Linked DNA regions of Homo sapiens: region 1 is linked to region 2. The links come from fine-mapping of genetic effects on gene expression. A gene starts in region 2. The other region holds a variant in brackets. All regions are shown on one strand. Distances are between the middles of the regions. Region 1 overlaps ITGA1 (integrin subunit alpha 1). Region 2 holds the start of MOCS2 (molybdenum cofactor synthesis 2).

The links.
Region 1: its variant is fine-mapped to the expression of MOCS2 in neutrophils (BLUEPRINT, PIP 0.90).

The regions. Positions count from the first base shown.
Region 1 is chr5:52,920,484-52,925,868 of GRCh38, forward strand. It overlaps ITGA1 (integrin subunit alpha 1), which reads left to right. Exons shown (of 29, transcript NM_181501.2): 18 at 2,294-2,404; 19 at 4,795-5,004. Among named protein-coding and RNA genes, the nearest start is that of ITGA2, 66 kb to the right of the region's middle. The variant A/G (reference allele first, on the strand shown) is at 2,020.
Region 2 is chr5:53,107,311-53,112,695 of GRCh38, forward strand. It overlaps MOCS2 (molybdenum cofactor synthesis 2), which reads right to left and starts at 2,447. Exons shown (of 7, transcript NM_004531.5): 1 at 1,941-2,447; 2 at 1,212-1,333. MOCS2-DT (MOCS2 divergent transcript) reads left to right here and starts at 2,532. Exons shown (of 2, transcript NR_104654.1): 1 at 2,532-2,838. RefSeq lists a silencer at 2,186-2,475.

The DNA.
Region 1 (5,385 bases), 190 kb before region 2:
ATCGTTGCTGCCTTATTCCAAATCAAGAATACAGTAGAGATGTCTTATTTCAAGTCAATCAAATTCTTACTGTTTTATTTCAAAATGCACTTATGATGTCATAAAGGAAATCTTGTTTGTTCATTTTTATCATAAAATCGCAGGTCTAATTTTCTCATTTCCAAATATTTGTAAAACTATCTCTAGTCTTCCCTGTCTGCATTATCAGACATCCATATATTATGGAACGGCAGGAAAAGACACAGTGTTCTAGTTGACAAGAAACCTTATTCATGTCTTCATTTCTTTCACTCATTCATTTATTCCTTCAACTTGAAAACATTTAATTTCTGTGGGCCTTGTCTGTCAGTTGTGGTTGGTAAGTGATTAACTGCTCTGGGGGCAGACTGCTGGGCTGTATGCTTTCTGGGATCCATGTAACTACATATCTCGCCGTTTGATTTTAGAGCGAAGGGGAAAATTATCTGGTATTTTCTATCATCTGTAGGCTTTGTGCTACTTCAGTTTTTTTTTTTTTTAATTTTAGTGGATGAGGGAGTTTTGGAAATCAAACTATTAATGTTTAGAGATGGCTGGTAAGCCAGTGTGAATCATTTAAAATGTATTTTGTTGGGACACTGTGTATATGGGGAATGTTCCCAACAGAGGGCAGGAGTTTCCTAAACATTTTCTTAAAATGTACATGAGAGTGATAAAAACAAGAAGCAGCATGAAGGTAATGAGGAAACTGATTTTAGTAACTGACATTAAGACTTAGAGACTTGACGGTAAACTTGGAGCTTTAAAGGAACCAGGCCAATTTTCCTACTTCTGACTTATTTCTGTATTATTGATATATTCATAGTCTGTATTTTGAAAATTGTAGTTCAGGGGCAGGGGAGTGACAGAAAATGTGCACCCTTTTGTGCCACATTTGTTCTTCCTCAGTGATTTTCATGTTGATATGCTTCATGATACTTATCATGAAGCTTATTCTGTCAGGACCAAGATCAATCTATTATTTGGTAAAATAACACTGGAGTTGCCCCTCCTATTTAGTTAATCAGAACTGAACACTTAGGAATTAGAATGTGGATAAAATTTGAATGGGTATGAAACCAGATATGGCATTGTCTCCAACCTGCTAAAAATCATCTCAGTCTATGTTTGTCCACAAATTCAGTGTCTAAGTTATGTCCAGGTACTGGTGTTTAAAGGACTGAAATATTTTCAAAATTTCGAAAATTGTTTTGGATTTTGAAAGAAGCACTTTGAAATTTGTTCTGGAGTCAGCCAGTGTAGAATTTGTATCCCAAATATTCCACATTCTGAGAGACTTTGGCAACGTCGTTTGGTCTCTTAGAGGGTCAATCTTTCATCTGTAAAATAAGGACAATAATAGTTACTCATCTTAGAGGACTGTTGAAATAATTTGCAATAATGTATATAAAGCTCATAATTTTGAATACTATAAATGATTATTGTTATTGGTGGCATGTTAACAGTATTAATCATATTCACATCCTTTCCAAATAATTTTACATTATAAAATTCTTGGCCAGGCATGGTGGCTCACGCCTGTAATCCCAGCACTTTGGGAGGCTGAGGTGAGTGGATCACCTGAGGTCAGGAGTTCGAGACCAGCCTGGCCAACGTGGTGAAACCCCGTCTCTACTAAAAACACAAAAATTAGCTGGGTGTGGTGGCACATGCCTGTAATCCCAGCTAGTCGGGAGGCTGAGGCAGGAGAATCACTTGAACCTGGGAAGTGGAGGTTGCAGTGAGCCGAGATCGTGCCGCTGTACTCCAGCCTGGGTGACAGAGAGAGACTCTGTCTCAAACAAACAAACAAACAAACAAACAAACAAAAACTTATAGCTGTAGGTATATATTATATTAATGAAATGTAACTCATTTTATAGAAAGTTTGCCCTTCTGAAGTTGGGAAATGTTCCCGGAAGTGTTACATAATGATCTTTGGCTTGAGGTCTCAAGAAAAACTATATTGTGATGCAGGTAGCTCCTATGTTGACACAGCCA[A/G]GTGTGATGTTGCCATCACTCCAGCAGGGCCCTCTGAGGAACTGGAAGTGAGTCAACAGGTCATACTCTGAAACCTCCACATTCCCCTATGCCCCTTGTCAGAATGCCAATCCCTCTCCAGGGAAGCAAAAGCCTGATGAGATCATATGTCAGATTAGATGCACAAGAATGCTGCAGTAAGCCTGACCCTTGGGAACAGAAGAAGGAGACATAACAAGATCAGAACACCCGGTAAATATGATACCAGTGATATATTTTATGTTTCACCCTCTAGGACAAGCATGACTTTCAGGACTCTGTGAGAATAACGTTGGACTTTAATCTTACCGATCCAGAAAATGGGCCTGTTCTTGATGATTCTCTACCAAACTCAGTACATGAATATGTAAGTCAGATTTCTTTAAAATACAAAATACCAACTTGTGAACATTTTAATGTCACTAGTAAACTGTGTTTTTTCACTACTCTGCATTGATCACAAAGAACGAACAACTAACTGGAAGAAAGAAAAAAAAGGCAAGCAGATTTTATTCCTGGTCAGGAATGGAGAAAGAGGGAGCTCTTGCTCTAAAGACCTTCTCTTCAAGCTGTGAAAACCTGGGGAATTTTAAGGAGTTAGATGTGGGGCAGGGAGGTATATGTAAGCATGTCCAGAGAGGAACTCCAGATGTACAAGTACAGCTCATAAACATGCTTCCTTATACAACATATGTTCAAGAAATGGTGGCCATTTTCTTCTATGGCAGGGACTTTAGCATTATAATGACATGTTAATGATCTAAAGGTAACAAGGGGTTGCTGGTTCTTGTTTGCTCCGTTTTCTCAATGGCTTTATCTTCCTCTGGTAATTGGCAAAGGGTCCTGAAGCTCCCAGGCCGTCTATAGTTGTTTTTCAGCAAGCTTACCTACAGATAAATAGACTAGAAAAAAAAAAACTGTTTAAGAAAAAATAATGCACTTTCTCAGCTATCTACTGTTTAACAAAATAATGAACTTTCTCAGTTATCTACTCTTCAAGAAAATAGTAAACTTTCTCAGCCATATCTCCAGGTTTGCCCTGGTAACATTAGGAAAAAGCTTGAAACCCATGCACACATAACCCTAAATCAATTTAAAATGTTTTAAAAAAGAATTAGGCTCTTCTAGACTTTTTCCAATCCTTCTAATTTCCTATTGTTGGAGTTTAAGAAAACTAATAAATGACACTCATTTTTACCTCATTTGAATTTAGGACCAATGGAAAGAAATCTCCCCCATTATTCTAATAAGCACTGGATTGCAGTGTATGGTTTAGGTATAAAGGGTGTCCTCACGCTGAAGCATGGACTTAGACCACCAGTAACCACCTAGGTCATCAGCAGTGCTGATCCATCTCTGTCCTTCTTCATGGAGCCCACCTTGTAAAACTTGTCAAATGGAGTAGAGCCAAATGTGTGCTTCCTGTGGGTACAGCTGCTCTGAGAATAGAAATGAGAGAAAGGGACTGAGTTGTGTTCACTTAGTTCCTGTTCCCAAAGTTAGAGTCCATGTGCCACCCCTGAGAGTGGAGTGAGGGGAGAGAAGAGGGAGGGTGTCACTAGCGTGGCTCCAATGGAAGAGATATGAGGGATGGGGAATTCTTTTTCCCCATACACCTATCTTCCATTCTCCCTTCCTTCCTACCAGATATATTGATTGTCTTATACATACCAGGCATTGGAGCTTACAGTCTAACACTGGAAACAGGTATTAAGTAGTAATTAGAGCATATGCTATGGAGGAGGATTTCAGAGCTCTCTAGGAACTTCCACCTAGGCTGAGAAGTCAGGACAGCCCTCCTGAAGTTGTGCCATTTCAGTGGAGCCCTGAAGGATAGGGTGATTTCCACCCTATTTAGGGGAGTTTGGGGAGCAGAGGGGATGCTAAGTGTGAAAGTCCTGAGCATGAAGGAAACAACGACATTCGCTAGTGTGGCTGACGCTAAAGAGCAAGAAAGGAGGTGACGTGAGGTGAGGCCGGAGGTAAAGGCAGGGGCCGGGTCATTCGGGACTTGGTGCCACTGCACAAATTCTAAACTTTTGAAAGAGCAGTGCAGTGCTTTTGAAGGTTTTTATTTGGTTCAGCCACACGACAGGATGCAGCAGAGTGAAGAGTGGTTGGAGGGAAACAGGTGGATGTGGGAGCCCCGTGGGAAGCTATTACTTTAGTTCAGGGAGGAAATGAGAATGCTTGGGTGTGAGGTGGTGGTGGGACTGCAGAAGCAAGAAAGGATTGGAGAGATATTTAGAAGAGGAGTAGAATGGACAGGGCTTGGTGAGTTACATATGGTGGTGGTGGAGAGGCGGTCAATGAAGAAGAATCAAGCAAAACTCCTAGATTTGTGGCTTGACCGTTTTCCACCCTCTCAACTGAGCTTTATGATATTCCTAAGTATTTGATTAATTTTAAGAGAAAAATCTCATGATTAGAGTTGAGTAGATTTAGATCTTGCAGTACTTGACTTTGTATTTCAAAACTGTCCTTCCCTGGCAGACAAAAGCCAGTGCAAAGCACCCATGAAAATTGTGCGTTCTTAAAAGGACAAGCACAATTTACATTTGTAAGTAAATGTTTACTCTTCTCCCCTATAAATTACAGGGATAAATATAAAATCCCTTAAGATTTTTGCAGGGAAATTCTCCTTATGAGTTGCTTAACTTACTTTGGCTGTATGCCATTTTTGTTACACAAATTGATGGGTAATTTTCAACAATGCGTAGCTAAATTTTGAAAAATTCTTTCCTGTCATCATTTCAGATTCCCTTTGCCAAAGATTGTGGAAATAAGGAAAAATGTATCTCAGACCTCAGCCTGCATGTCGCCACCACTGAAAAGGACCTGCTGATTGTCCGATCCCAGAATGATAAGTTCAACGTTAGCCTCACAGTCAAAAATACAAAGGACAGTGCCTATAACACCAGGACAATAGTGCATTATTCTCCAAATCTAGTTTTTTCAGGAATTGAGGTAAACTTCCAGTTTTTCATTTATTTGTTCTCTTAACATCATTTACCTGGCCTACTTTTCATGCTACTGAGATAATTGCTTTTATTAGATTGATTTTGAAAGAATAGAAGGAATTTTTTACATTAGTCCTCACCAATGGTGAAAGTATTAAGCTTTTTAAAAAAGTTTTGTTTTATTTATTCAAATATGTATGTCTTTTCTTAGATTCTGTGTGAGAAAAGGATAGCTCATGTATAAAAACTGTGTGTTTCATAAAATCCTTAAACCACTGAAACTGAAACAGAGTCAAGGAAAATAATAACAATCAAAGCCAAAACAGTTAACAGACGTACAGAGAGGTACCTCTGTGTTAAGCAAAAAAAATTTACCTGCAGGAAAATC
Region 2 (5,385 bases):
ATTATATAAAGCATCACCTGCAAAATTACCAATTAAATTTACACATAGTATATGGAGAAAGGACATATCCACTGAAGAACATACTTATACACCACAAAGATACGTTAAACTGCTGTCAACTCTTTATTGGATGTTGTATGCCTTGGGGAATTAAACAACAAAAAAATGCACAAAAAACCCACCAGACTGGAGGCAACACTCAAACCAGGTCAAAAGAAAAGTTTCCAATCAGTACATGGCCTTTCCAGGGTCCTTCTATCCATGTGTTCAAGCACAAGTATAACTGCCCACAAACTATGCCTGTACACATTATCCTACTCGAATATGGATTAAGTTGCTTAGAAAGATGAAAAAGATAGCATAGGTCATAAAGCCACCTGCAACACAGCTTTATTAGCTGTTCCTTTATACCTGAACAATGGTAAGCTTTCTTTTCAGGCACAGTGAAAACGTATACAAGACCTGCTGTCTCCCTCCAGGTAAAGCAGAATGGGAGACCCCACTGTGTTTTATTGATTATCAGGCCACTGTAAGAGCAACTTAAAAGATACGAAATCATGAAGTGGTTTGCTTTTAAACACTTATTATGGAGTATCTTTTACACAGAACTAGGACTTCCAGGTTAAACACCTATACAAGCTAAGTAACACCATTAATATTCCTGAATCACCCTCAAATAAGTCACTTTTATATTTTGTTCCAAAAAGAACTTGAAGTGGGAATGACATAAGTAAAATTATAGGTTTTTCAAGAACCAGAAAAAAAATTAAATATTACAAAAACTCAAATTCAGCAGCATCTAGGATTTGTTGTAACTCATTTTTCTTTCAATCTTAGAAATTTCTATGTTGAGCTCTCTAAAGAGAGGGGCAGAACAAAATGTTTAAAGCACACATTTTTAACAGAATTTGTAACAATTTCATTTAATGTTATAAAATTGCAGAAGTGACATGTGCAGTGTTTTGTAAATTATCAAAGAGAATATAATCATGTCCCTCTGCGGTTCACTGTGTTTTGGGGTAAAATATCTTTAACCTTTCTTAAAATACGGTGCACATTTAGAGTTTTTCAGGTGTTCCAAAAAAAATACAACTAACGATTCTTTTTGACATTAAGCACGGAAATCGAAATTAACCTTTTTACTTTTATCATTTATGTATTTTGAAAATATCTAAGTGTTACTCATATGCATTCTACAAATTTTTAACTACCCAGGATGTCGAGTTTCTATCTCCTTCCACAGCTGCAACGCTTTTATTTCTTGAGGCACAGAAATGGTCTCTGAACGAACTCCTGTTATTTCAGCACTTTTTGCAAAATACAATACTTCAACCTGAAAGTAAAGAAAATGCTTTTAATAACAACTCATACTCGTTTTCTGACTGTCAATGTTGAGCAGTTTTCTCATTTTCCAAATGTATTGCTTTAATCAAAGACAAATTTTATAAAGAAAATTAAATAACCCGTAAAAAATTTCAGTATACCTACAAGTTCAAATTCTGAAAACTTGTTGTTTTAAATACAATTCAGACTAATTTCTGGATGCCTTTTAGTTTTACAAACTTAAGTGTGCCATCATTAAAATCCTAAGTATTTATCTTCTAGGAAAACATGTTAAGCCTGCCTTAATTGACATAAAAGTATAGCACCTTTTATAAATATGTAAGCAAAGAACAAATGTTTGAGTCAAGAGATGAGTTACACAAATAAAATAAATGAATAAATAAGCGAAAAACCTGTTTCTCACGGTTGTCAAATGACCTTAGATTCCGGTCTGTATAACATCGTCCCCAGACGCTAAGGATTAAGTTATGCAACATAGTAAATCTGACATTTACAGAAGCAAGTAGGTTTGAAACACACGACAGACTGGAATTTGCTAGAACAAACTTGTGCCAGCAGCCTGGTATGTAAGGGATCCGACGAAGTAAAATAGGCACCTGTCACTCCGTGCAAACAACTCTTTACGAAATAATTACAGGTTTGCAAATGATCAAGGGTGTAGAAATCCACAGATGAAGCACAGTTCTTCACAAGAATTCTCCATGAGGTGCATTTCTTTTTAGATTAAAATTTTAGCTTCATCAAAACGAATAATCTGGGAAAGAGGTGGTCATAAAAGGTGGAGGCGCCTTCAGAACGAGTCCGTCCTTGCTGCCGTGAGCTGACAAGAGTTCTCGGAGAGGACCCGACTTCTGCTGGGGCAGTCGCAGTAAAGCCCGGAGACAGGAAGGGCCCGGGGGCGGGGGCGGGGGCGCCCCCGAACCCAAGACGCCGGCCAGGTTGGGGGCTAGTGGGGAGGTCCGACTGACCAAGGCTGGGTATGTGGAGGGAAAGGGCGGGAGAGACACGTCGAGGAGGGCTCCGCACCCAGGCCCGCACGCACACCCGCCACCCTTACCTGGCACAGCGGCACCATCCCGCCTAGGACAGCGGGACCGAATCACGGCCGCAAAGGCGCAGGCGCGGGCTCACCCGGAGCGCAGGCGTAACCCGACGGCGCTCAGCCCCCGCCTGCGCCTGCACGGAGCATGCGCACAACCAGCTCCGCCCCGCGCCGGGCTCTAGCTGTTTCCCTCAGGCGGCCTGTTCCACGCCAGGATTAGTTTTGCTTCGCAGATGGGCCGTGGTGGTGAGAGGAAGCAATCAGTATGGAAATGGAGAAATGGCTTACCATGCATGTCCTTCTCCCCAGGAGGGAGGTCGTGGTGCAGGCGAGCAGACGCCAGACTCCTGGACACTTGCCGCCTGCGTTATGGAGGCTTAGCTAATAACCTTGCAGGGGTCTTCAGGCTTTTCCACTGGCTCACCTTTAGGCTTCTGACACTTTTACCTACGGTATGTGAACCTCGAAAATTTGAGACAGGTCTCAGTTAACTTAGAAAGTTTATTTTGCCAACGTTGAGGACATGCCCGTGACACAGCCTCAGGAAGTCCTGAGGACATGTGCCCAAGGTGGTCAGGGCACAGCTTGGTTTTATACATTTTGGGGAGACAGGAGACATCAATCAATATGTAAAAAGTACATTAGTTCCTTCCAGAAAGGCGGAGACCGTTAAAAGCAAGCCCCGCCCCCCCCAACTGGGGGCTTCCAGGTAGGTAATAGACAGTAGCATTCTTTTGAGTTTCTGATAAGTCTTTCTAAAGGAGGCAATCAGAATATGCATCTATTCTTTGTCAGCAAAAGAGGTGACTTGGATAGAATAGGAGGCAGATTTGCCCTGAGTAATTCCCAGTTTGAAGGGGCCCAAGATTTTTTTCTTTCCCAGGTATATGATTAGTGTTTCTTAAAGACAGAATATCCGCCTGGTCAGAACATTCGAACTGTATGACTTTTCCTGTTTATTGGCTGCTCGGTAATTGTATACTGTCCGTCCAACTTTCCCAATTCTTGCCAACAAGAACTCTTGGCTTTAAATTGCTTGCGTCGTTAAGTGGATGTAAGTTACACGTCCCTTTCCTTGGAGCTCACAGTCCTGGGTAGGAGAGTTTTAAATATGAATGATAATTCCCTGTAATACTAAGGATCTGTGTTACATTTCAAGGGTGGAAGGGGAAAGTGGTTGTGTCACCTGGGGAGTGAGAAGATGCTGAGAAGGTAAATCTGCTAGAATGGTGGCAGTAAATGACAAGAGTGGGAGTAGAGCACGAAGAAATTTCACTTGCCTCTGACAAGCCACAGGGATATGAAGAAGCATAATAAGTTCACAGAAGGGCAAGTAGTTGGCAAGGCAGGTGTGCCTCCAGCAAAGGAGGTGATGAGAAGTGAGGCTGGAGAGTCCTTGGTAGGAAAAATTGACAAGGAGCAATGAATACCAATGTGTATCCTGGTAAAGTTGCTAAACATAAAGGATAAAGACTATATTCACACCCAGGCATAAAAACAAGGGAATGACAATAGTGGCCTTAGACTCCTCAGTGGCATCTGATGGCAATGTGCAGTGTGTAAAAAAGGCTGAGAACAAAAGCATGATCCCATAATATTACAGCCAAACTGGTGGGGCAGGATTCTCCTAAATCAGCAAAAACTCAAAAAACACAATACCCAAGAACCCTTCTTAAAAATCTTTCTTGGGCAAAAAGTCCACTCAATCAAGAGTAATCAAAGTAAATAACTCAGCAATAAAGGTATTAATATGGGAAAAATGAAAAACTAAAAAAACTGGCATTGAGATTTTAACCCATTCAAACGTAAAACTAAGATATCAATTATGGGATATGATTATAAAATAAAATGTAAATGACATCAGAATATTAAAAAAAAATGGAAACTGTCCAAAGTGGGAACATATAGTTACAAAATATCAATTCAGGTTTCTTAATATTTTTCATAATCTTCTTTATTTTAGAAAATATTTTAGGAGCAACTATCTTTTACAAATAAACAATAATCTGATGATTTATAATCCTATCAGTTTCACCAGTTATTTTGTTGATAAATTCAAGTAAATATAGGTCAATAATATTGCCTTGCTTTCATTTTTTTATTTTCTAATTCCTAATGAGGTGAATCTTTTCATATTTTCATTGAGCACTTATACTTCTCTGTGAAGTTTCTGTTCACATCGTTTATTCATTATGCTGTAGATATGACACAGTTCTTTTTTTTTTTACAAAATACAGCCCCATCTATAATTTGTGGATATGCAAGCAAAACTGATACCAAAATATTCCAGGCTTATTCCATAGGCTTTGATTTTACTTTTCTTATGAATTCATTAATTAAATCAGTGAATCATCACAATGGTATATAAATTATTTTAGTAATAGCAAAATGACTTTATGAACATTTGCATTTCACTTAAGCTACAATTTTTTGTGAAAACATAGTTGGAGCCACCATTTTCCCAGTTATTTTTACCATAAGGAATCCTATTTGGTTAAGAAAAAAAACAAGTTGAGGCAAAAACATTTCCATTTTGTTTTCAGATTGAAAAAAGACGAGATTCCATGAGACTAGAAATGTAGGAGCATCTCAGACCTTCACAGAACGCTCTGTTAGAAGATGAGAAACATAACGTTGCTTGTGAGAGGTGAAGCCAGCTGGACTTCCTGGGTCGAGTGGGGACTTGGAGAACTTTTCTGTCTAGCTAAAGGATTATAAGTGCACCAATCAGCACTCTGTAAAAACACACCAGTCAGCGCTCTGTGTCTAGCTAAAGGATTGTAAATGCACCAATCAGCACTCTGTAAAATGGACCAATCAGTACCCTGTAAAATGGACCAATCAGCAGGACGTGGGCAGGGACAAATAAGGGAATAACAGCTGGCGCCCCTAGCCAGCAGTGGCAACCCACTCGGATCACCTTCCATGCTGTGGAAGCTTTGTTATTTCACTTTTCACAATAAATCTTAGGGTTGCTTACTTTTTGGGTCCATGCCACC